Homo sapiens: one gene and its partners. The protein of the gene in region 1 interacts with the protein of each later gene in a biochemical or structural test. Each region holds a gene or a part of one and is shown on either strand. Other genes may lie near its edges. The genes, in order: CTBP1, GTF2B, HDAC5 and ZNF366.

What was found.
Region 2: the proteins of CTBP1 (region 1) and GTF2B form a complex in vitro, tested with the Homo sapiens proteins (one study listed by BioGRID).
Region 3: the proteins of CTBP1 (region 1) and HDAC5 form a complex in vitro, tested with the Homo sapiens proteins (one study listed by BioGRID).
Region 4: the proteins of CTBP1 (region 1) and ZNF366 form a complex in vitro, tested with the Homo sapiens proteins (one study listed by IntAct).

The regions. Positions count from the first base shown.
Region 1 is NC_000004.12:1,238,953-1,246,646, forward strand, and holds part of CTBP1 (C-terminal-binding protein 1), read right to left. Parts: intron 2,568-7,694; 5' UTR 2,380-2,567; coding exon 2,373-2,379; intron 1-2,372. UniProt on the Homo sapiens protein: Corepressor targeting diverse transcription regulators such as GLIS2 or BCL6. Has dehydrogenase activity. Involved in controlling the equilibrium between tubular and stacked structures in the Golgi complex.
Region 2 is NC_000001.11:88,881,360-88,889,053, reverse strand, and holds part of GTF2B (transcription initiation factor IIB), read left to right. Parts: intron 1-1,686; coding exon 1,687-1,793; intron 1,794-7,694. UniProt on the Homo sapiens protein: General transcription factor that plays a role in transcription initiation by RNA polymerase II (Pol II). Involved in the pre-initiation complex (PIC) formation and Pol II recruitment at promoter DNA.
Region 3 is NC_000017.11:44,092,298-44,099,991, reverse strand, and holds part of HDAC5 (histone deacetylase 5), read left to right. Parts: intron 1-6,157; coding exon 6,158-6,417; intron 6,418-6,506; coding exon 6,507-6,678; intron 6,679-6,785; coding exon 6,786-6,900; intron 6,901-7,185; coding exon 7,186-7,316; intron 7,317-7,464; coding exon 7,465-7,611; intron 7,612-7,694. UniProt on the Homo sapiens protein: Responsible for the deacetylation of lysine residues on the N-terminal part of the core histones (H2A, H2B, H3 and H4).
Region 4 is NC_000005.10:72,496,856-72,504,549, reverse strand, and holds part of ZNF366 (zinc finger protein 366), read left to right. Parts: intron 1-7,694. UniProt on the Homo sapiens protein: Has transcriptional repression activity. Acts as a corepressor of ESR1; the function seems to involve CTBP1 and histone deacetylases.

The DNA of each region.
Region 1 (7,694 bases):
TGGCTGCCCGGAATCCCTGATGGGGTCACCAGTGTTTCACGTAGGACGCCCCCAACCCTCTGCCTGGCATTACTTCCAATTATAGATGTGAAGAGAAAAGAAACAGAACAAAGGAAGAAAAGGGTTAAAACCTGTTAAAGTCCACTCTGTGCCCCTGACCTTCCCAGAACCAGATGATTAAAGCTCATTAACACCCATTCCTTTCGCGTATGACGCAACTAAGCCTCATCGGGGCCAACTGGAGAAATAAGGGCTCTGAGGCGTCACAGAAGCATGGCAGCTTCCAGGCACCGCCCGACCGCCCCGTGCCAGGCAGGGAGCACCAGGTGGGGCCACTGTCAGCCCCACGGCAGCTGGGCAGAGGCGGAGCTGGGGCCAGGGCCCAGCCGGTCCCTCCCCTCCTCCTCCAAAGACCGGCCACAGGAGACCAAGCAGTACCCAGGACCGTTCGGCCAGCAGGAGGGGAGGCGCACGACAGAACCAAGGAGCAGAGTGACCCAGCAGGCTCTCCAGTGGCCGCGGCCACAAGCACGCTCGGCCCAGTCTCCCGCCCCATCCGCTGCCCCATCCGCCTGCAGGTGAGCAGAGGCCACCGAGCTGCCAGTATCCAGGAAGCAGGGAAGTGCCTCCTGGAACCCATGGCAGAGAAAAGAAATGCTCTGGTGGACAGCCCAGGGGTGCAGTGGGCCTGCAGCACACGCCTGCAGGGGACGGGGCATGGGTCTCCACTGACCACCCCAAAGCCGAGGGCTCCCAGTACGGCTGGGCCCATGCCCCTCCCGTGAGGTCCTCGCGCCCTGGCGTCCTCGGAGGAGCCACTGGCCATTCCACCCACTTTCCTTCAAGATAGGAAACCAGATCCCAAACGTGAGGTCTGCACGGTCAAAACCGCGTCCTGGTTCGCCTGTTCCTTCATTCCCTCTGGACGGGAGCTGCCCACGAGCACCATAGACAGGCCGCCCAGTGACACTGTACATGGCCTCCCTCTGCACGTGGCCTCCCTCCCCGCTGTGTGTGGTGGTGATGACTTCTCATGAGCAGAAAGGTTTATGTTGCTGTTTCTGAGTGAGTGGATAGACATCCGCTCTCAGTATCCTTGGATTTCACTTCTGATGAGGAAGGCATGGACACACGGGATCACTGCAGACCGCTCGGCTGCGTCAGAACCGCCTGGGGGGACTCCTGGGTGCTGGGTGAGTGGGAACCGGGTCCCTCGTCAGAACCGCGTGGGGGACTCCCGGGTGCTGGGTGAGTGGGAACCGGGTCCCTCGTCGGAACCGTGTGGGGCACTCCCGGGTGCTGGGTGAGTGGGACCGGGTCCCTCGTCGGAACCGCCTGGGGGGACTCCCGGGTGCTGGGTGAGTGGGAACCGGGTCCCTCGTCGGAACCGCGTGGGGGACTCCCGGGTGCTGGGTGAGTGGGAACCGGGTCCCTCGTCGGAACCGCGTGGGGGACTCCCGGGTGCTGGGTGAGTGGGAACCGGGTCCCTCGTCGGAACCGCGTGGGGGACTCCCGGGTGCTGGGTGAGTGGGAACCGGGTCCCTCGTCGGAACCGCGTGGGGGACTCCCGGGTGCTGGGTGAGTGGGAACCGGGTCCCTCGTCGGAACCGCGTGGGGGACTCCCGGGTGCTGGGTGAGTGGGAACCGGGTCCCTCGTCGGAACCGCGTGGGGGACTCCCGGGTGCTGGGTGAGTGGGAACCGGGTCCCTCAGCTGAACGGTGGGGAGGGGGGAGCAGGTGGAGACACCAAGCCCCATCAGGCTCAGGCACCCAAGGTGCCTCCTCACATCACCCATGAGCTGCCCCTGACCACCGTGCCAGGGTTCCCCGGACAGCCCACCCTTGCAGGCTTGGGGACACACCCAGGAGGCTTCACAGTCACACGGCCTGTGCTGAAGCAGGCTTTGCAGCATCCCCCAAGCCCAAGGCTGTTTCCGACTGCACGCACTTCCGGGCCAGAGAGCGCAGACCAACCACAAGGAACAGCTCCACAGGGGCCACGGCCCTGCTCCTGGGCCAGCCGGGTGGACACCTGAGATTTCCAGGGTTCCGTGTGGGGCTCCACCCTCGTGCTGGCGGCCTCCACATGGAGGCCCTCCGTGCCTCTCAGACACTTTCCGACAGAAACAGACAGCAGATGCCACGGACAGGCCTGACCACAGCTGTGCTCTGCCACCAGGTGTGCAGGAAGCCCTCCCTCGAGGGGCACCTGACCTCGCCCAGAGCACACCGGGGGTCAGGTGGCAGCAGTCCGGCCCGACGCCCATGCAGCCCAGGTCCCTCGACTTGATCCGAGGCAGTGCCTCCTCCACACGGTCGCAAAGAGACCGGCCGGCTTCACTCTGCCGCCGACGCCAGGAACCCCTACCAACCTGACATCTCTTAATATGGGCTCAGCTTCCACGACCATGAATTCGACTTTTCAAAGCTTTTTATCTTCAGGATCCCCAGGCAGAACCGCGTCCTGTCTCGGAGCCTCATCCCACGTCCTTAATTGTCTCGAGCCAAAGTGCTCAGGCTTCTGATCCGCGGCAATCACTGAAGCCTGCGTCGGGGTCAAAGTCTTACTAAAAATCAAACACAAGAGACACATTAAAATGCCATCGAAGGTCCGACCAGAACTCACAGACTCCAGGGAACGCCTCAGAAGTGGACCTCACTGCATCTGCCACACCCGGGACTGCTGTCTGGGACCTACCTGGACTCGGGGGCCTGCTGACAGCCAGGGGCCCCGGCTCCTGCCGCACACACGAAGGGCGCTCACCCTGAGGTTGCAGTGCCAGGCCCGAGGCCGCGCCCCTGTGGCCCCGAGGCCTACTCCTGGGAACAGTCCCCCAGGGCTGCGGCCACCCCCACAGGCTCTAGCCGCATCCAGATGTCCCCAGTGTCCAAGAACCAGGGGACGGAGGGCACAGGGTGTGTGCTGTGGGCAGGGAAACTGCGGAAAGGCTCTGCCTCCTGTTCTGGAAGCTTCTATCTCATGTCACTGATTCCCGGGCCTCTGTGACCAGGCAAGGACGTGGAACTTCCCAGGAGCCACCGGGAGAGGTGCTGCTGGCTTTCCAGCATCCAGCCTGGCACTGCCTGCACTGAGCCGCGCCGGCTCCACCTCCGACCCTCAGTGCATCCTGGCGACGCTCCCTCAATTCTCCCAAAAAAACTGCTCAGCTCTTCCTGACCGCTACGGCCAGGGCCTGGCGGGAAGCTGAGGGCACGAACCCCAGTGGCTGAATGCACAGGGGCAGGGGGCCCCTGAGAGGGCCAAGCCTTCCAGTAGAGGCTTGAGAGTGCACACGATCGCCCAGCCCTCGGGAGGGTGTCACTGAGCTGCCCACACCTGGCCCCTGCTCTGGCATGAAGACACAGCACCGAGGCTGACCCCAACGTGCAGCTGACATCAGGCTGACCAGGACAGGAGCCGGCCACCACCAGCCCAGCAGCATGGCAGGCGTGGGCTGAGACGACTGCCTGCCAGGCCAGAAGGGGCCACTCAGCCAAGCCTAAGACCCTGGTAGTGTGCTGTGAGGCCGCCCCTGCGCAGAGGCCTCGCAGACAAATCTCCAACCCTCAACTCCCTCTGCAGGATTCAAGCATACATGCCGACCATCTCCAGCTTCCAGAGACACCATCACAGGGGCTGGGGTGCAGCCCCACGCACGCACCTCCCATCCAGGGTCCCCAACACCACTCCTCATGGCAGGTGCTGTGTGGGACTCCCTGACGGAGGGCCCAAGAGCAACACTGTGGAGCGGGATCCCCATCACCTGCGCCTGAGCCCCCATGACCTGCGCTGCAGCCTCCTGCCCTGAATGCCAGATCTCCCCATGGTACCCGGATACCACATAAAAACAAACTAAAAGGACAGGAGAAAACCGCCTAAATGTCACATTTCACCCACGAGCCAGCCTGGCCAGGGGGCAAGGCACCGCGCCACCCACGCCCAGCCAAACTCATCAATGCCAGCCGATACTCATCAACGCCAGCCGATACTCATCAATGCCAGCCGATACTCATCAACGCCAACCGATACTCATCAATGCCAGCCAATACTCATCAATACTGGCCAAACTCATTGATACGGGCCAATACTCATTGATACCGGCTGATACTCATTGATACCAGTCAATACTCATCAATGCTACCCACGGTGGCCCAGTACCGGCTGCTGCTCGTCAAGACCGGCCAATACTCAATACTGCCCACAGCAGCATGGCACCAGCCGCTGCTCCTGGAGGATCATCGATACCCATCAATGCTGCTCAATGCTTATCTATACTGGCCAGTACGTGCCCACACCTGTGTCTCTGAGGAAGAAGCAGATGTGTGAAGGCCACCCTGGCCCTCCTGAAAGGACCCTGCAGTGAGGAGGCCGTGAGCTCCCGAGCTGAGGAACCTGTGGCAGGGCTCCTGGGGCCCTGCACTCCCTGGGCTAGCCCTGCCAGACCTGAGGGGCTGCACCCCATGCCACAGGGACTTCCTGTGGTTCCTTGTTCCAAGGCTGCTCCAGTTCAGGACAGACACCTGAGGCCCAGCACCTGGTTCTCCTCCAGGGACCTCTGTCTCAGAAACAGCCCTGGGGTAGGTCTGCCCACCATCTGCACCACCCTGGGGCCACTGTGCACCCACAAAGCGCCCCCTGCCGGGCCACACCTGCCCCACTGAGAGCCAGTGTCCGAGTCCTGGAGCCCTCACCTAGGGCAATGCCAGAGGCCCTGCGCACCTCACGCCAGGGAGCTGGCCTCCTACGGCCTTCCTGGCTGGCCGGTCAGGGTCAAGGGCTCCAGCTCTGTACCTTGCCCACACACTCCGAGGTGAAGGCACACGGCTCCCAGAGGGGCCTGTGCTGTCCAAATCCAGGACCCACACTGCTTTTCCTCATCAAAAACTCACAGCCGCACACGGCTCTCAGCCCAGCGACACGAGGACAGTCTCCAGCTTCTCACCCTGCAGACGCTTAACCTCATGTTGTAAGAAAGCACTCAAGGGACCCACGAGGGAAGTGAGTGTAGAGCACATGGAAGCTTGTGCTTCCTATTTTCCTGTAAATCTAAGACTGCTCTAAAACAAAAACTGATTTTAAAGTAAATGGGGGTGAGGTGAGGGGCAGCAGCCCCCAGGTTCTCTGGAGGCATCAAGTCCCGGGGGGCTGCACGGTGGCGGCCCGATGACCCCAGAGCCTCCTGGCCACATGTCAACGCCCTGTCTCTGGATGCACATCACCATCTGCTTGCCGGATCCTCCCTCCTGTTGGCCACGCCTGCCCACTCCGCCCCGATCCACGTGTGTGCTGGGCATCGGTCCATTCTGGTCTGGAGAGGGACCGGGTTGCCCCGGCACACTGGGGGTCACCATGGGCTGGGACCTGCCCCGATCCAGACAGCCACAGTGGGTCTCTGGGCACTGGGGGGGGGGTGTTCCAGGAAGTCCCAGGGGGCACCAAGATGCGCCAGGACCAAGCAGCTACCCCTGTTCCTTCCCCAGCCTCAGCACCTGGTCCTCATCCCCGCCTGCTCAGACCCAGGCTCGGCAGCTACCAACCCTCCACGTCCCTCCACTGGCCAGCCCTGCTGGGCCAACCGGTCCGCTCCCCTCCCTCACGACCTCCACCAGGACAGTGTCCCAAAAGCTCCTCCTCACCAACCCCATCTTCTTCCCCCTCCCCACAGCAGCCCCTAAAGCCGCTGCCCAGGAAGGGCTCCCCGACCACCAGAAGGGCACCCTAAGGCTGGGTGGTCTCAGCGGCCCTCACCCTGCCCTGTCCCCATAAGCCCTGATTACTCCGGGCTCGAGTGGCCCTCTCGTGACAAAGCTGCCCTGCCGTGAGTCCCCGGCAGCCATCTGGGCATTGGTGAGATGCCCCCTCTGGCTGTCCAGGCCTGGAGGCCCAAAGACTAGGGCCTGGCGGTGCTGCCCAGCCAGGGGCTGACATGAACGAAGGCTGTGCACAGCCTGACCCGGAGCCTTCCAGTCCTGAGATACAGCCACCTGCCGCCCAGAGAAAACTGAGGCCCTGCCCTGCAATGGCAGAGAAGGCAGGCCCCCAAGAGGGAGCCGCACAGCAGCATGGAGCCACTGGGCTGAGAGCACGGGGCCAAGAGAACCTCCCCCAGACAGACAAGGCCCGTCACCCACAGGTTGAAACAGCTCCTCCGACGACAGCACCCCAGACAGACACTGCCCAAGTCATCCACGAGCCGATACGGCACCTTGGACGGCAGCATCCCTGTGAGCCAGGGAGCCACCGCACTCCACGGGGCCTGCAGGGCCGCATCACAGCTCAGAGGACACAGCGCAGGGGCTGTGATCAAAGGCATGGATTTGCCAGCAAGATTCCTCTCCAGGACATCCGTGGAGCCGCACGTTTCCCTGTTTGTTCAGCGAGCACATGCACACAACCTGTGAGCTCCAGGAACCCCCAGAACGCCACCTTCCTGGCTCCTACCACATGTGGGGTATCAGGGCTACACCTTCCTCCCCTTCCCAACACAGTCTACACACGACACCACTGGAGAGACAGCCTCGGATGCCTCTGAGGCTCCTGCCAGCCACGCAGACAGGGCAGCCCAGGAGCCCCCACACCACAGACGGGCGGCAGGTCAGGGTGGCACAGGAGGGCACGGTGACACGGGCGGCAGGGAAGAGTGGCACGGGAGGGCAGGGTGACACGGGCGGCATAGCAGAGTGGCATGGACGGGCAGGGTGACACGGGCGGCAGGGCAGGGTGGCACGGGTGGGCAGGGTGGCACGGGCGGGCAGGATGGCACAAGCAGGTCAGGGTGGCACGTGTGGGTAGGGTAGCACGGGTAGGCAGGGTGGCTTGGGCCACACCAGGCCTGGAGAGTTAACGGCGGTGCCAGGGGAGGGTGCAGAAGGGGCCTGGTCCCAACACCGCCCACACCTCTCTCAGGGCCATAGCCCCAACGCCTCCCCAACCAAACCAACTGGGCTTCCCTCAGGGCCATCCTCACTCTCCTTCAACACCCGTGAGAACTGGTACCACCTGGGGCCGCCCAGAGAGACAACTCAAGGTTAACGTTTGGCTCGGCAAAGAGCCACCAAGAAATTTCTGGCTTCACAGGGAAAAAAACGAACATTTCCTTGTGGGAGATACCACATGGAATGTGTGGCCGGAGGGGCTTCTGGAAACGATGGTCAGTGACGCAGGTGGCACCTTGTGGGTTACCACGACCCAGTGCGGGGGAGAGCAGTGGGCTCCGGCCACTGCAGCTGACAATGGAGGACCCGGGGGTCCAGACACTCCCGGCACAGAGCTCTTACCCACAACTACCAACATCCAGCGACCACCAGAGGACCCTGGCGCTCCACCCGGCGCTCCGACCAGCGTTCCCTTGGGCGATGCAGTTCAACCACAGAACCCGTATGACACTGCCTGCTGCCTCTACCACCTCCTGGCCACCCCTGGGCCCTGGGCCAGGCCTGCACCGTCAGCACCACCTGGATGGAGCCCTCTCCAGCCCCCAGTGGAGTGGGAAACATTAAGTCCTTCTACAAGGAGAGTCAACCGGGGTAAACACCTCACAGGGCACACACCTTTGACTTGGGCACTGCATGGGGAGCACCAGGGCACAGCCGGGCACAAAGTGCTGCCTGAAGAGTTCTCAGCAACACTAGTGGTGCCAGCCACACGCCTCTTGGCTCAGTGACACCACCGTCAGCTCAGACCAGGTCACATT
Region 2 (7,694 bases), on another chromosome or scaffold:
TTCACTACCTTGCTTTTACCTTTTTTTAATGAAGTTAGCACATTTTAAAAGTGGGCAGCTCAGTTACAAAGTGAGCACATACATATAGCTCCTACCCAGGTAAGGAAATCAGATACCACTAGCACTAGCTAAGACACTAGCAAAGTCTCTGTCCTCAGTCATTCCCCCTCCTTTGAGAAAACCACATCCTGATTTCTAACTCCATCAATTCATTTGGCCTGCTTTAAAGTTGTCATAAATGGCATATGTATTCTGCTGTCTAGATTCTGTTAGTATTTTGAGGTTCATCCATGTTATGGTGTATGGTTAGTTCATACTTTTCAGCTTTGTATAGGTTTTCTACCTTATTCTTCACTCTTCATATCTTTGAGATGTTTCTGTATCATTACACAAACTATAGTTTTCTATCTACTTTTTAATACTGCAGAGATATTAGTTCTTAGCACGTGTTGCACATGGCCTCCTCTTTTACTAATTTGTAATTACTGTTACTCTGCTAACATTTTCCTTTATTTCAACATGGTTTTTCATAATTTATATCAACTGTTTAATTTTATTTGTCATAATTTATTAAAATACTTTCCTTAGAGGAATTTATGGAATAAACACAAATATGAAGTAATACTCATCCCCCCGTGTTCCCAATGAGAAGATTCAAGACATATTCTAGTTAAGCTGACTAGATAAGTTTAGGGGGGAATATGGATTATTTTATCAGTTTTCCCGTAGATATCACCTTCTGAGTTGAGAGTTAACATTCTGAATTGTATTTGCTAGCATGAGAAACTTTACCCCAAACCACAAATACTATTTACATACTATAAGAACAGTTGATTTTGTCTTTTACGTGTATCTGATGTCCATAACCTAACCATTTATTGTATTTCAGATGGTTTTTAAAAGGGCCTTATTTGCAGTGATACCAAGAATTTATGATTGTGAGGTCATACCCCCTGAAATAATGATCAAATCTTTGTTGCTTTTACAGCTGATTCTGTCAGATCATTTAAGATTAATGTGTCAAAAAAAGATGAATGTGTCTTCTGCAAACTGCTTTGTTGTTCAAAATAAATTGAGCTAATTATTAATATCACAGATAACAAGTAGCTTTTGAAACAATTTCTTGAATGATAAATTCAATAACTCAATTCTGGACTAAAGGAAATCATCAAGTCTTAAGTTCAGCAGAGCAACTTCTACCATCCCTCATTTCTATACTTACTGGGTTCAGTGTACTATTTAAATCTGTTACTAAAGTAGTTAACAAGTAGAAAAATACAGAGAGAAATTGTTCTCTGACTAGAGAAATAAGTGGCAAAGAGCACAAACTGGATGGTAATGTAAATGCTGCAGGTTATTACGGTAACTAGTCATTACTATACTAATCAACATTTCTAAAAGTCTTACTGGCATACATATTGAGAGAAGAAACAATTATTTTCTATTTATGTTTTGAAAGCCTTCCACAATAAAATAAGAATTCCAGTGGAAACTACTTGCCAGTTACTAGCTGGAATTTAAAATAACCTAACTGGGATGTTTACTTTGAAAATCTAGCTTATATGTGTTACAGTTGTATGTATGAAAAAACGTTCACAATCTTTGTCTTCCCCATCCCCCATCCCAGAAGATTAATTTGATACATGTTGGTTGGGAAGATGTAAAAATACAACTTTTTTCTTTTAGTTTGGATGCTCTTCCAAGAGTCACATGTCCAAACCATCCAGATGCGATTTTAGTGGAGGACTACAGAGCCGGTGATATGATCTGTCCTGAATGTGGCTTGGTTGTAGGTGAGTTGTTATTATGGTTTTAATTTAAATTACTGTTCAGGAGGCCAAGCATGGTGGCTCACGCCTGTAATTCCAGCACTTCGGGAGGCCAAGGTGGGAGGATCACCTGAGGTCAGGAGTTCGAGACCAGCCTGACCAACATGAAGAAACCCCATCTCTACTGAAAATACAAAAACTAGCCGGGCGTAGTGGTGGGCACCTGTAATCCCAACTGCCCAGGAGGCTGAGGTAGGAGAATGGCTTGAACCCAGGAGGCGGAGGTTGCAGTGAGCCGAGATCGTGCCACTGCACTCTAGCCCGAGCAACAGAGCAAGACTCCGTCTCAAAAAAAAAATAATAATAATAATAATGTTTAGGGTCCTTCACTTTTGCATAGTTTCCAAACTATCATTTAATGAACACATTTTTGACTTTCTTCCCCAACAAATAATTTATTGCAAAAAAACAATTAGGAAACAGAAACGAGTAAACTTATTCAGAGATATATTTTATTGTATATCCAAATGTATATTTTTATAATGTGGGGTGGGAGCTAATCCAGAAGAAACGAAAAGGCCCCAGTAATTTCATAAGTCCTTAGTCTGAAATATTTGGTAGAGGACTGGAGAGATGGGCTGACACTCATGCATATTAAATAATGAATACATGTAATCAAACTTTTGTGGCTTTTTTATACATTGGGAAGTAGATAAACATGATTTTTGAGTCCCACTTAAAGCCTTTTAGTCAAAAAGAAGATTTATTATAACTTTTATACAGTCATCTATTGATGAATATCTTGTATAAAATTATTGCCAAAAATAACACTTAAAGTTTCACCTTGTTCCTACTTGCACACTAATCTAGATATGCAGCAGAACTTTAGACTACAGATAGTCTGTTCAAAAATTATTCTTGTGGTGGAGTTGTAGCATCTGAGAATAGGGGTAATATTTAGCAGTTTGAATTACTTAAGAATGAAAATTCTAGAAGGATTGTGGGCAGTATAACAGAAGCATTAGTAGTGGCATACTGTGGACTTGACTTACTTGGTCCAAGAAGGCTGCTTGCCTCAGACCTATAGTGGGAGTTTTAAAGTATAGAGTTGCTAATAGGAATTGAGAATCATTTGCAACCGTATTCTGCTGAGTAAGGAATATTAATAGCTAATATGTTTACTATATACTAGGCACTATTCTAAATGATTTACATATTCACTCAGTTTATCCTCACAACAAACCTGTGAGGTGAGTACTACCATTATCTTCATTTTACAGATAAGGAAACTGACGTTTAGGTAGTCTAGAAGACTGGCTCCATTGTCTGCGTGGGAGGCAGATTTCTATCTTGTATTGCCTTTCATAATAATAAAATTTTAATCTGGGGTCGTCAAAGTACAACCTATATATGGCCTATTTGTTAATTCTGGCTTTTACATTTTTAAATGGTTAAAAAAAATCAAAAATAATATTTTAGGACATGTGAAAATACAAATTTCAGTATCTATAAAGTTTTTCTTCGTTTGTTTTTTGAGACGGAGTTTTGCTCTTGTTGCCCAGGCTGGAGTGCAATGGCGTGATCTCGGTTCACCACAACCTCCGCCTCCCGGGTTCAAGTGATTCTCCTGCCTCAGCCTCCCAAGTAGCTGGGATTACAGGCATGTGCCACCATGCCCAGCTAATTTTGTATTTTTTTTAGTAGAGACGGTGTTTCTCCACATTGGTCAGGCTGGTCTCGAACTCCTGACCTCAGGTGATACGATCGCCTTGGCCTCCCAAAGTGCTGGGATTACAGGCGTGAGCCACTGCGCCTGGCCAAAGTTTTTTTTTTGATACAGAGTTTCGCTCTTGTTGCCCTTTTGTTGCCCAGGCTGGAGTGCCGTGGTGCGATCCCAGCTCACTGCAACCTCTGCCTTCCAGTTTCAAGTGATTCTCCTGCCTCAGCCTCCCGAATAGCTGGGATTACAGGGGCCCACTACTACACCTGGCTAACTTGTTGTATTTTTAGTAGAGACAGGGTTTCAGCATGTTGGCCAGGCTGGTCTTGAACTCCTGACCTCAGGTGATCCACCAGCCTCAGCCTCCCAAAGTGCTGGGATTACAGGTGTAAGCCACCATACCTGGCCTGGTATCTATAAAGTTTTAATGGAATATAGCAACACTCACTTGTTTACATAGTGTATATGACTCTTTTCACATTACAACAGCAGAGCTTAGTAGCTTCAACAGAAACCACATGTGCAGCTCTCATCACTTTTTTTCTGCTGCTCAGCATACTAATTGCAGTGATGCAGTTATAACAGCAACATGTTGATCGCCACATATGTTGCCATACTGCACTATTTTATTTATTTGTTTTTATTACCATTACATATCCATCACACCAAAACAAGAAAAGTTAACTTTGAATGTCATGCTTTTAAGGCATGGTGGAGTATGGATTATTTTGTCACTGAATTAGATGGCAAAACATTGTGTTTATTACACAATGATACTGTAGCTGTGTTAAAAGAATACAGTAAGCGTGGACATTACCATACTGAGCACTCATCAGAATATTTCTAACTCAGGAAAACAATGGTCAGAAAATAATGTAAAATAGAATATCTTAACACAACAGAATTTTTTCACAAAAATAAAAGAATGAAACTGAGGCTGCAACTAAAGTTTCTAAGTGGCTTATTTCTTGGCCAAGCAAGGAAAGCCATTTACCAATGATAGGTTAATTCATATTTGATTGCAACAGCTGAAGAAATGTATGCAGAGAAAATAAATTTATTTAAGACTGTTAGCATCTCACCAAGAACAGTTGCTTGAAGAGTTGAGGACAGTGGAGCAACATCAGTAGTCAATTAAAAGTTAAGGCAAATTAGCTCAGGTATATTTTTCCTTGGCTCTTGATGACTAGATCAATGTTATTGCTGCTTTGCAGTTGTTTATTCAAGAAGTCAGTGTTGGGCGAGGTGCAGCGGCTTACGCCTGTAATCCCAGCACTTTCGGAGGCTGAGGCGGATGGATCATGAGTTCAGGAGTTCAAAACCAGCCTGGCCAAGATGGTGAAACTCCATCTCTACTAAAAATACAAAAATTAGCCGGGCGTGGTGGTGGGCATCTGTAATCCCAGCTTACTCGGGAGGCTGAGGCAGAGAATTGTTTGAACCTGGGAGGCGGAGTTTGCAGTGAGCCGAGATTGCACCACTGCACTCCAGCCTAAGTGACAGAGTGAGACTCTGTCTCAAAAAAAAAAAAAAAAAAAAAAGTCAGTGCTGAGCTTGACAGAAGAACTAGCTCCAGTGAGTAGTCTACATGGAACAGCTATAGGAGAAAATAGCTTCAAAGCAGTTGCAAAAGTGTTAATTCAGTATAACCTGAGGTGGAATCTGCTAAGATTTATTATAACTGATAAGGGTAAAAATATGTGGAGCAGAAGACTTAGTGGAACAGATTTGCCAAGATTGAAAACGTAAGGTGTTTAAAAAGCCTATTACATTATTCATCAGCAGTACTTTGTTAGAGAAGACTTTAATCTACCTTGTGTTATTTAACCAGTAATTGTGAACAATGAACTTCATTCACTCTTGTGCACGTAACTATCAATATCAGTTCTGTGACTTTTTTTTTGAGACAGAGTCTCACTCTGTTTCTCAGGCTGGAGTGCAGTGGTGCGATCATGACTCACTTCAGCCTCAACTCCTGGGCTCAAGCAGGACCCTGGCTAATTTTTTTTTTTTGGTACAGATAGGGTCTCACAGCGTTGCCCAGACTAGTCTTGAACCCTGGCCTCAAGTGATCTTTTTGCCTTGATCTCCCAAAGTGCTGGGATTATAGGTGTGAGCTATCATGCTCAGCCAGTTTTGTGACATTTTGTTAGAAATAGAAGCTGAATATTTCTAACAAAATACTGTTAGGGTGACTTGTCTTAATGACACACTAATCTGGTGACTTAGCAGTAGCAAAGTTTTGTTGTGATTTTTCTGAACTCGGGGCCAAGAGTAAGATTTTTCTGAATCAGTACTGCCTTCGGCTACTGCTGTTGAACACTGGATGGTTTTGAAAATTAGCTTTTGCTGCAAACTTGCTAATATGTCTTAATGAATTCATCATAGAGTTACAAGGCAAAATACTGCTTTTCTGTGAAACATAAAGTGCAGTAAAGTCAATTTCACAAGTTAACATTTGAATCATAAGTAATGTCAAATTGCTTTTATATACTTTATATACTTCCAGTGGTGTCAGAAGTTAAAATAGGATGTTCATTACCACATAGATTTGCAGCAGATATATTTTCCAGGCTCAAGCTATATTTTCAGCAGTGTTTTTCAGACTTGAATGCAAATGCAAAGGAAATTTTCATATTTCAAAATTTGTTTTCACTGTACAGTTAAGGGGGTTCCATCTAACCTTCAGTTGGTAGTGACTAATCTGCAGTGTAACAGTATGTTAAAAGGCCATTATCAGGAGAAGAATGTAATACAATTCTATGAATGCCTTCCAAGCAATAAATATGCTCAATTAAAATCATACACTTGTGGATTAATATCGGTATTTGGCATTACTTGTCTATGCGAAAAGAAAGTGAAATACATAAAATCTTGTTAACACAACATCATTGACACATGAACATTTGTCATTGATTTTGATAGAGAACATTAACTTTGAACTCCAATTAAGTGAAATGTGATCCCCAAAAGAGAATTTTATTTTCCTCATTAGTAGACATGTAAGTACCTACTTAATATCCTGAATTTTGCCTCTTGACCCACAAAACCTAAAATACTTACTATGTCACCCTTTACAGAAAATGTTTGCTTAACCCTTCAGTTAAATGAGAGCCTTCCAGTTCTTCCACAGTGTTAAGATCAAACTGATAATGTGTACGAGTGAGACAGACATACATGAGATTGAAGATAATTTCAGCTTCTTAGCTCTCCTAACCTCTGTAGCGTTTTTTTTTTTTTTTTTTTTTTTTTTTGGAGTGAGAGTCTCCCTCTGTCCCCCAGGCTGGAGTGCAGTGGCACGATCTCCGCTCACTGCAGCCTCTGCCTCCGGGGTTCAAGCGATTCTTGTACTTCAGCCTACTGAGTACCTGGGATTACAGGCATGCACCACCACACCCACCTAATTTTTGTATTTTTAGTAGAGACAGGGTTTCACCACGTTGTCCAGGCTAGTTTTAAACTCCTGGCCTCAAGTGTTCCACCTGCCTCGACCTCCCAGCGTTCTGAGTTTACAGGCGTGAGCTATGGCACCTGGCCCATTTTTAAATAATGTAAAAGTATCCCATTATATTTTCAGCCTTCCCACCAGCCTCACTTCCACTTTAACCAGCAAGACAGTGGAGATTAATCAACTGAAAAAGGAAGATACAATTCACAAGACTTGTATGCTTTCTTGTGCTTGGAATTCCTAATTTTTGCTTGTACTTTTCTGCTATATCAAACCAAAGGAAGTTAATTTTGTTTTTGCTTTTATTGACTTACTAGTATCAAACACCATGTTAAATCTTGAGATCTGAAAAACATATCCAATAAAACTTACTTTCTATAATATATGACAGTATTTCTTTTTGATACTGATTCTTCTAACATAAAATATAACCAACACTTATTTTAAAATATACGGTAGGCTCATTCATAGATATTTGTGGTTAAATGTGTAATATATCTTGTAAGCGAAGAATCCATTCCATTACCAAACAAGGGCAGGTGTAGAAGAGTCTAGGAGCAAAGTTCTGTTTTGCTGAGACTATCATCAAGCAAATTAAGTTGGAAATACCTAAATTGAACATGACACTGCATGAATATAAATCAATATATGACATAAACACCTGTATATATTAATGTCATATATCAATAGTACATTTAGATTGCATTAAAATCATATGTCACTTGATGAGGGTATGTTCTGAGAAATGCATCGTTAG
Region 3 (7,694 bases), on another chromosome or scaffold:
GCTCTCCCTCATGCTGCCTGAAGAATCTACCACAGAAGTCCCCACTGGGCTGATGGGGTTCCTGAAGAGGAGGCAGACCCAGCGGGATGGGAAAGAAGTGTCACTCAGGTGGTGCACTGCCCATGGCCACTTGTGCTCGTGAGCTGGGCAGGGCAGCTCCTGAGCCAGAGCTTGCTATTTTTCCAGCCCCTCGCATGGCTAGAAACACACAGCCCCAAGGCCAGGCACGGTGGCTCACGCTGGTAATCCTGGCACTTTGGGAGGCTGAGGTGGGCAGATCACGAGGTCAGGAGATCGAGACCACCCTGGCTAACACGGTGAAACCCCGTCTCTACTAAAAATACAAAAAATTAGCTGGGCGTGGTGGCGGGTGCCTGTAGTCCCAGCTACTCAGGAGGCTGAGGCAGGAGAATGGCGTGAACCTGGAAGGCGGAGCTTGCAGTGAGCCGAGATCGCGCCACTGCACTCCAGCCTGGGCAACAGAGCGAGACTCCGTCTCAAAAAAAAAAAAAGAAAAAACGAAACACACACAGCCCCACCCACTCAGCAACCCAGGCTGGGACTTCCCATGGAGGCAGGGTGGTCAGCCCTGCAGAAAACCAGAGGTCAGGATGGTGCTGCTGCTTGTTACTGAGGCCACCACTCCCAGGAGAAGGAAGGTTCTCAGTGCTGGGAAAGAGGAAAGTATAGAGCTGGGTGCGGGGGGCCCAAGGCTTTCCCCCAGAGCCTTGCCTCTGACCTCTGCAGGAGGTGGCTCTACTGGCCTCTCGATTCCCATCAGAGTGAAGTCCTGGCAGGTGAGGGAAGGACCCAGGTCCTTGTCCTCCCCTGTGAACCTTTCCCTGGCTTTCTTTTCTTTTCATTTTTTTCTTTTTGAGACAGAGTTTCACTCTTGTTGCCCAGGCTGGAGTGCAATGTCGCGATCTTGGCTCACTGCAACCTCTGCCTCCCGGGTTCAAGTGATTTTCCTGCCTCAGCCTCCCGAGTAGCTGGGATTACAGGCATGCATCACCACACCCGGCTAATTTTGTAATTTTAGTAAAGATGGGGTTTTTCCATGTTGGCCAGGCTGGTCTTGAACTCCTGACCTCAAGTGATCCTCCCGCCTCGGACTCCCAAAATGCTGGGATTATAGCCACCAACGCTTGGCTCTCCCTGGCCTTTCAGTGGGGCTCTTTGCTAGCCAGAGCTCTTGGCCTGTCCTCTTAGGGAACAGTGCCCCTTCGTCTACCCTCTTTTTTTTTTTTTTTTTAGATAGGGTCTCGCTCTATCACCCAGGCTAGAGTGCAGTGGCATGATCTGGGCTCATTGCAACCTCTGCCTCCTGGGTTCAAACAACTCTCCCTGCCTCAGCCTCCTGAGTAGCTGGGATTACAAGTGCCCGCTACCGCACCCAACTAATCTTTGTATTTTTTAGTAGAGATGGGGTTTTGCCATGTTGGCCAGGCTGGTCTTGAACTCCTGACCTCAGGTGATCCGCCCGCCTCAGCCTCCCAAACTGCTGGGATTACAGGCATGAGCCACTGCGCCTGGCCCAGGTTCCCTTTTTTTTAAGAGACAGCCCTGGGTAACTGGCCACCACGCCCCGGGCCTGTCTATCCTCTTCTTTTCCCAGAGGTTCCCCAGCCTTCCTAGTCCACCAGGAGGCGGCCAAGAGCCTCTTCCTATCATGACACAACCACTTCCCCTTCCAGGTGCTTGGTGCTGATGGCAACTGCTGCCACCTGCTCTGCTCATGCCAGGCTGGCAGAGGGCACAGATCCTTGAGAGAGTGCAAGGCCCGCCAGGCTCCAGGGTCTGTGCCTGGGCAGACTCTATTCATGGGGCTCCATGCCCCTCCTTTCCCTGACTCAGGCAGAGTAGCCATGGCCCCTTCCACTTTGGGTGGAGCAGGTTGCTACCTGGCAAACCCCTGGGGTGCTGCATGTCACCCAGTCCCTGCAGGTCCTGCAAATTAATATTCTGGAGTCGCCTGTGCTTCCTGTTTGCATGGGAACGAGGCTGCATGGCAGAGCCCTCTGCCTGCCCTGCCACCTGCATACCAATAGGGCTGTGGTTCCCGCTGCAGCTCCGGGCCTAACATCTCTGCTGCTGCAGTGGCAGTGACAGGCTGGTGGGAGATTCCCCTTGCCTGAGCCCATGTGCTCTCTGCAGGGCTCCTGCAAGGGAAGCCAGTACTGCTGGCGACAGTTCCAGCCCTAGGCAGGGTTATCTGCTGGGAGCCAGGAGTGCTTGGACCTCTGCCCTTCCCTGGGCAGGCAGGCTGGAATCTGGCTCCTACAACCCCGGCATTGCCGGGAGCAGCAGGTTGACGGCTGTCCATTGCTTGGCTGAGTGATCAGAGTGCCACGGGCCAAGCCAAGCTTGACTAAGAACAGATAACCCTCCGGCCAGCTCAGGGCCTTGCTGAGCACTTCACGGGCTGGGGAGACCTGAGCTGGCTGCCATTTCCTTGCCACCATCGTGGGCTGTGGCTAGTTACCTCCAGGAAGGCCTTCTGCAGTTTCCAAGGACCCTTTCTCCTGGTGCTGGGGCAGGACATGGGTTGGGAATGAAGATGAGTATGTGTAACCCCACCCTCTGGCCACATCTGGCCACTTCTGCACATGTGGCTCTGGCCTTGTGGCCACAGAGTCGTCAGTATGGCTGGCGGGAAAACCACAGAGGAATGTTCCCAACCATGCCTGGGGGAGAAGAGGCTGGTGGGGACTGCTACATCATGCTGAGCTTTTACCTTCTCCCACCCCACCCTGCCTGCAGGGGGTTCCAGAGGCCATACTCCAGGCATGTGGGTGGCATGGCCTTGGCCTCGGCCTCCAGCAGGCCTTGCTCCTGCCTTGGTGACACCCATTCAGTGCTAGGTTCTCTGGAGAGATCCAGACCCATCTAAACAGGTGTGGGGGCCTCTCTTAGCCCACCCTTTGCCACCTCCTACCTCCCACCTCCCTCTCTTCTCTTTAAAAATTGTTCGGCTGGGTGTGGTCACTCATGCCTGTAATCCCAGCACTTTGGGAGGCCGAGGCGGGTGGATCACCTGAGGTCAGGAGTTCGAGACCAGCCTGACCTACATGGTGAAACCCCGTTTCTACTAAAAATACAAAAATTAGCTAGGCCTGGTGGTGGGCGCCTGTAATCCCAGCTGCTTGGGAGGCTGAGGCAGGAGAATTGCTTGAACCCAGGAGGCGGAGGTTGCAGTGAGACTCCATCTAAAAAAAAGGCCAGGGGCAGTGGCTCATGCCTGTAATCCCAGCCCTTTGGGAGGCCGAGGCGAGCGGATCACCTGAGGTCAAGAGTTTGAGACCAGCCTGGCCAACATGGTGAAACCTTGTGTCTACTAAAAATACAAAAAAATTAGCTGAGCGTGGTGGCGGGTGCCTGTAATCCCAGCTACTTGCGGGGCTGAGGCAGGAAAACTGCTTGAACCCAGGAGGCAGAGGTTGCAGTGAGCCGAGATTGTGCCACTGCACTCCAGCCTGGATGACAAGAGCAAAACTCCATCTCCAAAAAAAAAAAAAACAAAAAAAAACCAAAACTTGTTTTTTGTTTTTTTTTTCCCTCTCTCGCCTCTTAATGCTGGGGGGTGGTCTGGAGAGAGGCCAGCTCATGAAGGCAGAAGATACTGGTAGCCAGAAGGATTTCGGGGTCCTTTTTTCTCAGGCCTGGGCTGGAGTGGGCCACTTTGCCACAGGAGTCTTCCCAGCCCCTCGTGACCTCCCTGGGCTGTAGCGAGGAGAGTGAGGGCTTTCTTTGGAGAAAGAAGTAGAAGAGAAACAGGAATGGGTTGGCCTGCCTCTCTCACTTCCGCCTTCCCAGGCAGTGGTATCCTGCCTTCCCCTTCCTGGCTGGAGACTTTGTGGGGCTTGGGCTGGGCTTGGGGCTCCCTGCTGGTGTGGTGTTTGCCCAGTTGTCCTGGCAACCACAGGGCAGTGGTGAGGAGTGACATGCAGTGACCTGAGAACTGTGTGTAGGTACAAAGAAGTGGAGACCTAGCCCTCCCATAAGCCCATTGGAACTTCGTGCACTCCCTGAGCCACTCGGCCCATTGTCCATGTGGGGACTGGACCCAAGGTCTTGGAACCCAGCAGGCCCTCCACTGCCTTCCCCTCCCCAGCAGCCTTCCTCTCCCCAGCCGGTTCTCCGTAAGACCAGAGTTCTGAGATCTCTGCCGAAGCTCCTGCCCTCCCCCTGCTGTTACCCTTCTTCCTGTCTGATTCCCTTTCCTTTCCTGTCTCCTCCTCCCACCTCCTCCCTGCTGCCTGCCCGCCCATCCTCTTATTCCCCCTCCCCCCAGGCACAGCTGCTGTTTGGCTCACTCTATATATAGCGGCATTTTCAGGGTAATTACAATAAAACTGTTGAAAGGAGATAATCCAGCAAAGGAAGCGAGTCTTGACTCCCAGCCCCCTCCTGTCCCTGGCTTGGTGCAGCCCTGCACCCCCTTTCCCCGAGGCCTCCTGTTCCCACCCCACCCCCATTCCCACAGCCTCTCCCTCCTGCCCAGTCTGCCCCAGATAGGGATGAGGCCCCAGAAGGGGACAGAGGGTAGAGATATCCAGAAGGTCTCCACCAGCCTCTCCTGGGGTTACCAAGGGCACTGTCAGTCCTAGAACCAACCTCTGTGCCTCAGTTTCTCTTCTAGTATGAGGCTTTGCATGGGGCACGGTGTTGAGAAATGGGAGCGGGCACAGTGGTTAAAAGCTTAGGATTTGGACTCATATTCTAGTTATTGGATCACCTAGCTGTGTCTGGTTGCTACTTAAACTTCTCTAAACCTCAGTTTCCTCATCAGTAAAATGGGGTAATAATAGCATCTAAGTCATAGGGTAACTGTGATATTTAAATGAGTCATTGTAAAATGCCCAGAGATGTTGACTATCAATGATAATATTATGTGTTGAAGGCTGGGCAGTGGCTCACGCCTATAATCCCAGCACTTTGGGAGGCTGAGGTGGGAGGATCGCTTGAGCCTAGGAGTTTAATTCAGCCTGGGCAACATAGTGAGACCCTGTCTCTACTAAAAAATTAAAAATTAGCCTGGTGCATTGGCATGCTCCTGTAATCCCTGCTACTTGGGAAGCTGAGGTGGGAGGGTTGCTTGAGGTCGAGGCTGTCATGAGCCACGATCATGCCATTGCATTCCAGCCTGGGCGACAGAGCAAGACCTTGTCTCTGATATATATATAGGTAGAGAGATAAATACACACACATATGTATGTGTGTGTGTATATATATATATACACACACATACGTACACACATATATATACACACACACACACAGATACATAAAATGCGTCGAGTAGTCACAATCTGTCAGGTACAGCTTCATGCTTATGCACATTTTCTTTATTTTTTTGAGATGGAGGCTCGCTCTGTCGCCCAGGCTGGAGTGCAGTGGTGCGATCTTGGCTCACTGCAACCTCCACCTCCAGGGTTCAAGCGATTCTCCTGCCTCAGCCTCCTGAGTAGCTGGGACTACAGGCGTGTGCCACCACGCCCAGCTAATTTTTTTTGTTTTTAGTAGAGACAGGATTTCACCATGTTAGTCAGGATGGTCTTGATCTCCTGACCTCGTGATCTACCCGCCTCAGCCTCCCAAAGTGCTGGGATTACAGGCAAGAGCCACCGCGCCCGGCCTCCCCCTTTTTGTTTTTTGTTTTTTTTTTTTCTGGAGACAGTCTTGCTCTGTCACCCAGGCTAGAGTGCAGTTGCATGATCTTGGCTCACTGCAACCTCCGCCTCCCGGGGTTCAAGAGATTCCCATGCCTCAGCCATCTGAGTGGCTGGGATTACAGGTGTGCACCATCACGCCCAAATAATTTTTGTATTTTTAGTAGTGAGGGGGTTTCATCATGTTGACCAGGCTGGTCTCAAACTCCTGGCCTCAGGTGATCTGCCTGCCTCAGCCTCCCAAACTAACCTGAGATTACAGGTGTGAGCCACCGTGCTCAGCCTGTATTTTCCTATTGAAGTTCATGGCTTCAGCCTCATTTAATTAAGGTAAAATGTTGCATCCATGGAGCAGAGGGATTTGACTTCCTCTCTGTCTCTGTTCTCTTTGGGTCTCCTAGAATCCTGCGTGGTAGCCTTTGGGCCTCAGGCATGACTGGAGTCTGGGGCTGGGCCCACTAACTCCTTCCTGTCTCTTCTGCCCACAGTGGAGGTGAAGCCGGTGCTGCCAAGAGCCATGCCCAGTTCCATGGGGGGTGGGGGTGGAGGCAGCCCCAGCCCTGTGGAGCTACGGGGGGCTCTGGTGGGCTCTGTGGACCCCACACTGCGGGAGCAGCAACTGCAGCAGGAGCTCCTGGCGCTCAAGCAGCAGCAGCAGCTGCAGAAGCAGCTCCTGTTCGCTGAGTTCCAGAAACAGCATGACCACCTGACAAGGCAGCATGAGGTCCAGCTGCAGAAGCACCTCAAGGTGAGCGAGGGGGGTGCGGGGGGCCGCCCAGACCTCCGATCCCCGCCCGGGCCTGGCTCACTTGTGCCTCCGTTCCCATGCCCCTGCAGCAGCAGCAGGAGATGCTGGCAGCCAAGCAGCAGCAGGAGATGCTGGCAGCCAAGCGGCAGCAGGAGCTGGAGCAGCAGCGGCAGCGGGAGCAGCAGCGGCAGGAAGAGCTGGAGAAGCAGCGGCTGGAGCAGCAGCTGCTCATCCTGCGGAACAAGGAGAAGAGCAAAGAGAGTAAGGCAGGGCCTCCTGGGACCTCGTAGGGCCCCGCCCGTGATGCCTGCCCCTGCCATGGGGGGTCTGGCCCCAAGCAGCCAGGTCAGTTGTGCCCTGTCCTGCAGGTGCCATTGCCAGCACTGAGGTAAAGCTGAGGCTCCAGGAATTCCTCTTGTCGAAGTCAAAGGAGCCCACACCAGGCGGCCTCAACCATTCCCTCCCACAGCACCCCAAATGCTGGTAATGGCCCTGGGCAGGCATGGGTGGGCATAGGTGAGCCGCTCAGGGGCTGCCTGGCTATAGGATGGCAAGGGGCTTCTTCCCCGTGCCCATATACGGGCCCTGCAATCTCTCCTTAGAGACAGGACCCCCATCCCTGGTTTATTTCCTCATTCCTTCCCCAAGATCCACGTCCTCTTCCTATATACAAACGATTTTTCATAAATGTAGATTGCCAGGTGGCAGGTCCAGCAGACTGGGTGATAACCTAGATCTGCTTCCATCCCCACCCCCCCCCCACCCCAGGGGAGCCCACCATGCTTCTTTGGACCAGAGTTCCCCTCCCCAGAGCGGCCCCCCTGGGACGCCTCCCTCCTACAAACTGCCTTTGCCTGGGCCCTACGACAGTCGAGACGACTTCCCCCTCCGCAAAACAGGTGAGTGAGTCCCCCACCTGGCCTCCCAGAATATGGCTCCTGGGAGGCAGAGGTGGGCTTGTGGCAGTGTCAGCCCTGACCCCAGTGGGCTCAGCTGCAGATGTGTGCTGCTGTGCGCGTATCTGAACCTCGGTTACCTTCTCTCCAGCCTCTGAACCCAACTTGAAAGTGCGTTCAAGGCTAAAACAGAAGGTGGCTGAGCGGAGAAGCAGTCCCCTCCTGCGTCGCAAGGATGGGACTGTTATTAGCACCTTTAAGAAGAGAGCTGTTGAGATCACAGGTGCCGGGCCTGGGGGTAAGGGCTGCTCTCATGTACCTGTTCTGAGGGTCTGGGAATCAGGGGTCGGGGGTAGTTCACAGCAGGCCCAGGTGACAGCC
Region 4 (7,694 bases), on another chromosome or scaffold:
TTAATGTATTGATATTCATCTTCACGAATGGCAGAAATGGCAGATTTAGCTTCACTGAATGCAGCTGTATTCAACACAGCTCAATGCAGGGGAAAGTTTGTCTCGGGATAAAAGTTTTCAACTTAGATGAACGTGCAAAGAGAGTTCAGTTATATTGTGGACATTTTATTCTCCCTTTCACCCACTTCCCCAACTGCTTGAGCTCTGTGTTATTGGTGACCTTTTCCCTGGTTGTGGAGGGCTGGAGACACTTTTTTTGGAGACCATCGTGGTTGTACCATGACTCAGCTAAAGAGGAAAGGACTTAAAGTGACACATTCTCCTCCTGCCCAGGGCTGAGCACACTTGGGGTTCTCTCTCCTCAAACATTGTAACAGTGAGCCACTCACCTTCACACAGAGAAACAGAACACTATATATCACCATGGGTGTGCGTGTGTGTGTGCATGCACGCGTGTGTGCGCGCGCATGTGTGTGTGCGTGCGTGTGTGCGTGCGTGTGTGCATGTGTGTGTGTGGTGCCTGATTGATCCAACTGCTATTTTTCTTTCACTCTAAACTTTAAAACCTGTATGACCGTTAGTTTGTCAAGTAATAATGATACTTTTACTTAGGTCTTAGTTAAATTTCTCTCCACTTTCCAAAAGCAAAACACACAACAGCAAGAATAACAAAAAATCTACCACCAATAACCAAAGCCATTCAGGTCCTTTTGTTAGACTGAGAGCTTGTGAAACAACAGAGACATGTTTGGACACTTAACCTTAGGGACAAATCGAAGCTGAGTTGTTCTGCACTAACGTGCAAAAGGTGCCCTCTCATGTGGCTTGGTGGAGTAGAAAAAGACCAGATTGGGAGTCAGAACACTGCTGTTCTCATCCAATCTCTGCATTTCCTATATGCATGACTTGACAGGTTGCTTTACTTGCTTGGATCTCAATTTTCTCATCTGTGAAATGACAAAATGGGATAAATAAGTAATTTTCGAGGTGTGCGTGTGTGTGTGTGTGTGTGTGTGTGTATTAGAATTCACCTACGGGCTTGTTTATAGTCTCCTCCTGCCCTGTCCACTTCATGGGATGATCTGTGAGACCCTTTTGCTGACATGCTGTGATTCTCCAAAACAGATGGTCAGTGTCTTGCTCCGTCTTCTTCTGGATGGCATTAACATTAACTGTAAATGCTCGTTTTAAGAGCCATGCTTTTAAATGGAATTCCTATTCAGCACTGGATGTTCTCTCTAGAAGATAGTTCTGAGTATATCAAATGTTATTTTAGAAGCTATTAGTATTATGGAATAAGGAATGTCCTAGCCGGTTGAGCAATCTGATGATAATGATCAGTGTTCTAGAACCATATGTAAATCACAAGATCAATTACTTAGATCTGTAAACATTATAAATCAATATAAATAGCACTTTTTTTTTGAGACAGAGTCAGGCTCTGTCACCCAGGCTAGAGTACAGTGGCACAATCTTGGCTCACTGCAACCTCCGCCTCCCAGGTTCAAGTGATTCTCCTGTCTCAGCCTCCCGAGTAGCTGCGATCACAGCTGCCCGCCACCACGCCTGGCTAATTTTTTGTATTTTTAGTAGAGATGGGGATTCACCATGTTGGTCACACTGGTCTCGAACTCCTGACCTCAAGTGATCCACCTGCCTTGGCCTCCCAAAATGCTGGGATTACAGGCATGAGCTACTGCGCCCGGTGGAATAGCACTTTTTGATTTATCCATTTCTATATTATTTGCATCTTAGAGTGAGCATGTATTTGTTAATCAAGAAAAACACAGATACTAAGCTTTTTCTATTCCCTTTAAAAAATATTAGTAGATTCTATCTCATAAGGTTTTGTTTCTTATTTTTTTACAACGTGTGCTGTGATGAGCCTATTTTACAAGTTAGATCCTTGTCCCTAATTTAATGGTGATGTAGAAAGGCAAAAAGATTGATAATGGTGTTTGAAAAATCAGCATTCACAGGTCATATTGTATGCTTCAATTATAAGGAAAATATAAACCTTATAGAAAAAGTTGTTCTAAATTTCCTGATTGAGTTTTTACCTAAATCACTCATTTTTTTCTTATATGTTTATATGGATAATGAAATAAAGCAGCAATGGACACAGATCTCCCTCTGACAGGAACATAGAGACAGCAAATAATTTTAATGTGCACCCTCAGAAACAACTAGCCTAATGAAGGCTGTTCTTTTAGACTATTCAAAAACCAAATACATTTACATAAAACAATGGTATTTACATAAAAGAATAAGAACATGTCTTCATCCAGCGTTATGTGTAATACATAAGTTCACAAGAAAGGAAGCAGCATGAGGACAGGGACTTTGTTTTGTCCACTGCTGTCTGCCCAGGGCCTACAATAGCACAGAGCCTGTCATAGATGCACAATAAATATTTGTTAAATAGATGAGTTAATGAATCAGTGGGCTGTAGAATGAAAGATGCTATCTTTATACAATGCCAAATGAAGCCATTAATTTGAAAAAAAAAAGTTAGTCAAACTTTTCTGGAGTCTAGACAATGCCAAACTGCCAGCTTGATGGATTTATCCCTCACCTGAATTGACTGGAACTATATGGGCTTGTTCTGCTGTTGTGTGCATGGGGCTGCTACATGTGTATTAAAATGTCGTCTTGGCAAGCACCCCCACCCATTTGTTCATGGGAAATTAACATTTATCAGATAGATACACAGAAAAGACTGTTGTTGCATTTTATTTTCCATTTATTTTCTGGGCAGATGATGGGTTTGCAAATTGTTTTTGGCGAGACAGAGAACGGTCATTTGTTTTTCCTTGACTAAAAGAGCTGTGAGCCAGGATCCAGCCTTGTAGGAAGTGTTCAGCTCTCTGGTTTGTTATAGGCAAAGGCTGTGAATCCAAGCTAAAGGAATGCCACTTGGGCTGAATTGACAAAACACCATGGGGTAAATTCAGGGAGAGAAATGTGATACCCTTGTTGAGCACAATACCCTTTCCTTTCTTTAATTCAAGCCAATTGAAGAAGGCCAAAACCACTGGATCGAGTCAGTTTTATACTTATTTGGCAAATTTAAAGTGGCAAATCTAAACACCTAGTAACAAAAGTTGGGATTTTGGATGATGCTTTTTACATTTAACAACATTGGGGTTCTAGGTGTCTGTTAATTGGAGTAGAAACTGAAAAGGCACTCTCTATTAACATTGATAGAATCTCTCTTTAGTGTCAAGTACCAGGGCACACAAAGAGAATACTGGGCAATTCTCCTATATTCCTTTGATAGATTATGGCCCCACTCTGACCTCATTCTTTGATGGCCACTGATACTAAATGGGAGAGTGATTTACCAACAACGGCACTGCCACCACCAGCGCCAACAATTATGGAGGAGTCATTACTAGGTTTGGGGCCTCCTCAGAACTTTAGATACTTCATTTCACTTACCCCATTCTCAAGTACGTGCCTTATTCTCCTCATCTTAGAGCTGAAGAAAGGCAACCACCTTGTTTAACAGATAAACTACAGAAAGTACGTGATTTGCTCAAGGTCAGTAAATTAATGTTGCTTGTTTTCAGTTTCCTTATAAGGAAAAAGTGTCATCTGTAGCTAATAATTTCTTTAAAACAAATATGTATCCTTTAAGGTAGTAGCCTTCAAATGGGGTCCAAAGACCAACACCATGGCACCACCTAGGAGCTTGTTAGAAATGCAGAATAAATCCCAGCTCCACTGCAGATCAACTGAATCAGAATCAGCATTTTAACAAGATCTCCAAGTGACCAGTTGCACATTCAAGTCTGAGCAGCACTGCCTTATGGTTTTGGACTGTTGCACACAGATTGATCAGGGAATGTAGGACTCTATTCCAAGGAGTTACAAAGCCATTTGTTAACTTTGACCTTGTCCAAGACAACATACCTCCCTATTAAATAGTGGCATTACTGGACAAGTCTCCAATCTATTCAGCTCTGAGCAACAGTAGGCATGATTTCTGTGATCTCTCCCATGAAGTTAACTCCATATCATGGGATCCTAGCACTCTCAGAAAGGGCGAGGGTATTATTTTCAGGTGCTTTCTGAGCACCAATCATCAGAGTTACCTGGGGCAGATTTCTAGGCCTTTCCCCAGATCTAACAAAGCTGAAGAGGGGACCAAGGCTCTGCTTATTATTCAAGCTGCTGGCTCAGGGTAAGGAAGCCCCCAGGGAGGGTAGTGATGAGTATTTCAGGCAGATTACCCTAAAAAATAGTTTAGCTTTTTTCAGTAGCTTGAAAAAAACATTTAAAACCATAGTGCACACATTAGGGCACCGCAGAGTTCTTCCAGGAAGAAAACGTACTCTGCCGCTTTCTTCCTTTGAATGCTTGAGAATAAGGATGAGAAATCTTGCTGTCTGCCCTGTGTCTTCCTCAGGGAGAAAGGGAGGACCCGCTTCTCCAGCATCACAGCCAAAGAGGAGACGCCAGTCCACACGCCTCCCTCTTCCCAGTGAGAAAACTCTGTGGAAAGAATCCTTAGAGTTTCCTTTGCACTGGGGACTCACCGTTCTCTCTTGGAACAGAAATCAAGAGGAGACTATTGTTGGAGGGGTGGGGGAAGGAAGCAGCGCCGGAAGAGAGCGAGGGAGAGGACCGGAATCGCCTCTGGTTTGCTGAAGCCTGGACAAAATGGGGCCTCTGCCTGGATGGAGCCCATGGCATCTCTCCCGTGACTGAGGCCCTCTGGCCACCTTCCATGGAAAGTGCAGGGAGATGAGGAATTTCAGGTTTTCAGCGCTGTTTAATGGAACGCCTACCTCCATAGTGTCCACCACTTGTTTCTTGCTGTTTTTCTAGTTCAGGCATTTTCTTTCCCACGACACGGTGGAATTTCCTCCTCTCACCCCTACTTCCAGAGAACTTTTTCAGTTGTTTTTTTCTTTTTTAAGTACAAAGAAGGGTCTTCTAGCATTATCCTAAAAAATCTATATATTGAACATTTTTAGGGTACCAAAGAGTTCTATGCTTAATCTATAAAGGCGGGGTTGGTGACAGAGCGAGACTCCGTCTCAAAAAAAAAAAAAAAAAAAAAAAGGCAGGATTCCTGAAGTGCTAGAATTTGAATTCTTAGGGTGAGGAATATGTGAAAAGTTCTGAAAGGTTGCTGGCAGGCATATCCAGAATCTCACCTCCTACCTGGCTTTTCAGAGATCTGGGCAAGGAGGGACTATTCCCAGCATCGTCTTTCTTGATATTCAGGAAACAATCAGTGATGCAGCAGGCAAGCAGGCGTTTCCTCCAACATGGTCTGCAGCCCTCCTAGCACCCAGTGATTTCATGGCACAATCACCTGTCTCTGGCTGGGGAGAAGTCTCCAGGGGCAGAGAGTTCTTCTGGTGGCAGCCTGGGCCTCAGATCTAAATGGGGATGTTTGTGAAGGAATAGAGACACCAGTTTTGTGGGTAACAAAGTTCTGCTCAAAACTGCATCATTTTGCAGAAGGCAGTCCCATTCCATGTGTCTTCACATCCTCCATATGTTCAGACACATCCCACTATTTAGAATGACTGACATTGACTCTTTTCCCCCTTGAGTCTCCTAGGAGAGAAATTTCAGCATCACATCTTTAATACATGCAGTTGGGAAGGACATTTAATGGTGAGAAAATCCCATTTCAGAAGGATTAGGACATAAAATGCCAAATGTATTTGCTCTTCAAGCAATATGGATATTTTGGGAGGAGCAGTGGTTTGCTGAAGTGCTATCGCTAGGTACATGGTACATGTACCTTACACTTGTGTATACATACACACACTGCCTACCCAAAATCACTGGTTGTTATAAAAGATTATGAGCCAATGGGTTAGCCCCAAATTGTTTGACTCAAGAATGTAGTATCTGATGTTCAATCTCTTAAACTTCCAAACAGATTTACTGTCCTAATTATATTTTTCTTAGTGATGTTAAAAAGAGTTTGAATATTGTTAGCTAGTGGGGGCAGGGAGAAAATGAGAGAAGATTTAAGTGTTACTACTAGCAATTCATAAAGCACTTCATTCACTTACTGTGTGTTGTTTTGAGAATGTGAGTAACGCAGGAAAGAATGCTACTTGGAGTCAGAGAATAGAGGATTGAGTGTGTGTACTGACACATGAATGGATGGCAGATCAGTGAACTAAAATGTATATGGGAATTTAGTACATGATAAAAATAACATGTATATCAGCGGAGAAAGTTGAATTATGTAATTAATGAGATTGGGACAACTGGGTAGCTATTTGGGAAAAAAATAAACTTATATTCCTACTTGATTTTTTAAATTAAAATAAATTCCAGATAGATGAAAGACTTAAAATGTTAAAAATAAAAATATACTGTGAACTTAAAATTTTGCTTTAAAAAGTCTTAAAGAAAACATAACAACTGTAGAGATATTTTTTTTTCGAATCGCAGAGTAGGAAGGGCCTTTCTAGTTTTACGCAGAGGCCTTAACATTTATCATGCATTTTATTGCATTACAATAAAAAGCTTCTGCAGGGCCAAAACTCAATAAACAAAGCCAAAAGACAAACAAAACAAAAAATGGAGGAAGCATTTGCAACATGTATCACAAAGAGCTTAGTATAAACAGAAAAATGAGCAAATGACATGAAACACATACTTCACATAAAATGAAATATAGTTGGCTTATAAACATGCACAAAATAAAAGATATTTTAATTCATAATAAGAAGCAGCAAATTAAAACTATGAGATACCAATTTTTATTTACTTGATCGGCAAAGATGAAACATTTGTTAACACACTTATCTCTGGGGTTCTGGAGAGAGCTCTCAGATATTTCTGGTGTAACTGAATTAGCAGAACATCTACAGACAGCAATTTGTGAATGTCTATCAAAATGTAACATTGACTCCTCTTGAATTTATCCTATATAAATAAGATGTAAAAAGACATACCTACAATGCAATGTATCTGCCACAGCATTATTTGGACAGAAAATAATTAGAAATAGCACAATTGTCCATTAATAACAGACTGGTTAAATTAGTACAGGGCATCTGTACAATGGAATATTGTGCAGACCTACTAAATGAGGGAACATAATAGAGTCCAGAAATGGACTCTCAGTATATGTTCAATTGATTTGACAAAGGTGTCAATGAGGGGAAAATAGTCTTTTAAACAAATGGTACTGAAACGATTCCATATCCATAACAAAAGAAAAAATGAACTTTGGCTCTTATCTCACACTATACACATGTATTAACTTGGAGTAGATCATAGGCCTGAATGTAAGTGTTAGAACTTTAATATTTCTATAGGGAAACACAGGAGAAAATCTTTGTAACTTTGGCTTAGGCAAAGATTTCTTAGTTACGACGCAAAACATGAAATACATGAAAACATTAATAAATTAGACTTTATCAAAATTAAAGACTTTTGCTCTTCAAGAAAAAGATACCGTTATAAAAATAAAAAGACAAGCGGCAAACTAGGAGAAAATATTTGTGAAACATATCTGATAAAGGACTTGTTTTAAGAATATCTGATAAAGGACTTGTTTTATACATATTTTAAAACTCTTAAGGGAAACAACCCAATTTAAAAATGGACACAAATTTTGAATAAATACTTAAAAAAGATATAGAAATGGCAAATCAGCACATCAAAGATATACAATATTGTTAGATTACGAAAATGCAAACTAAAACCAT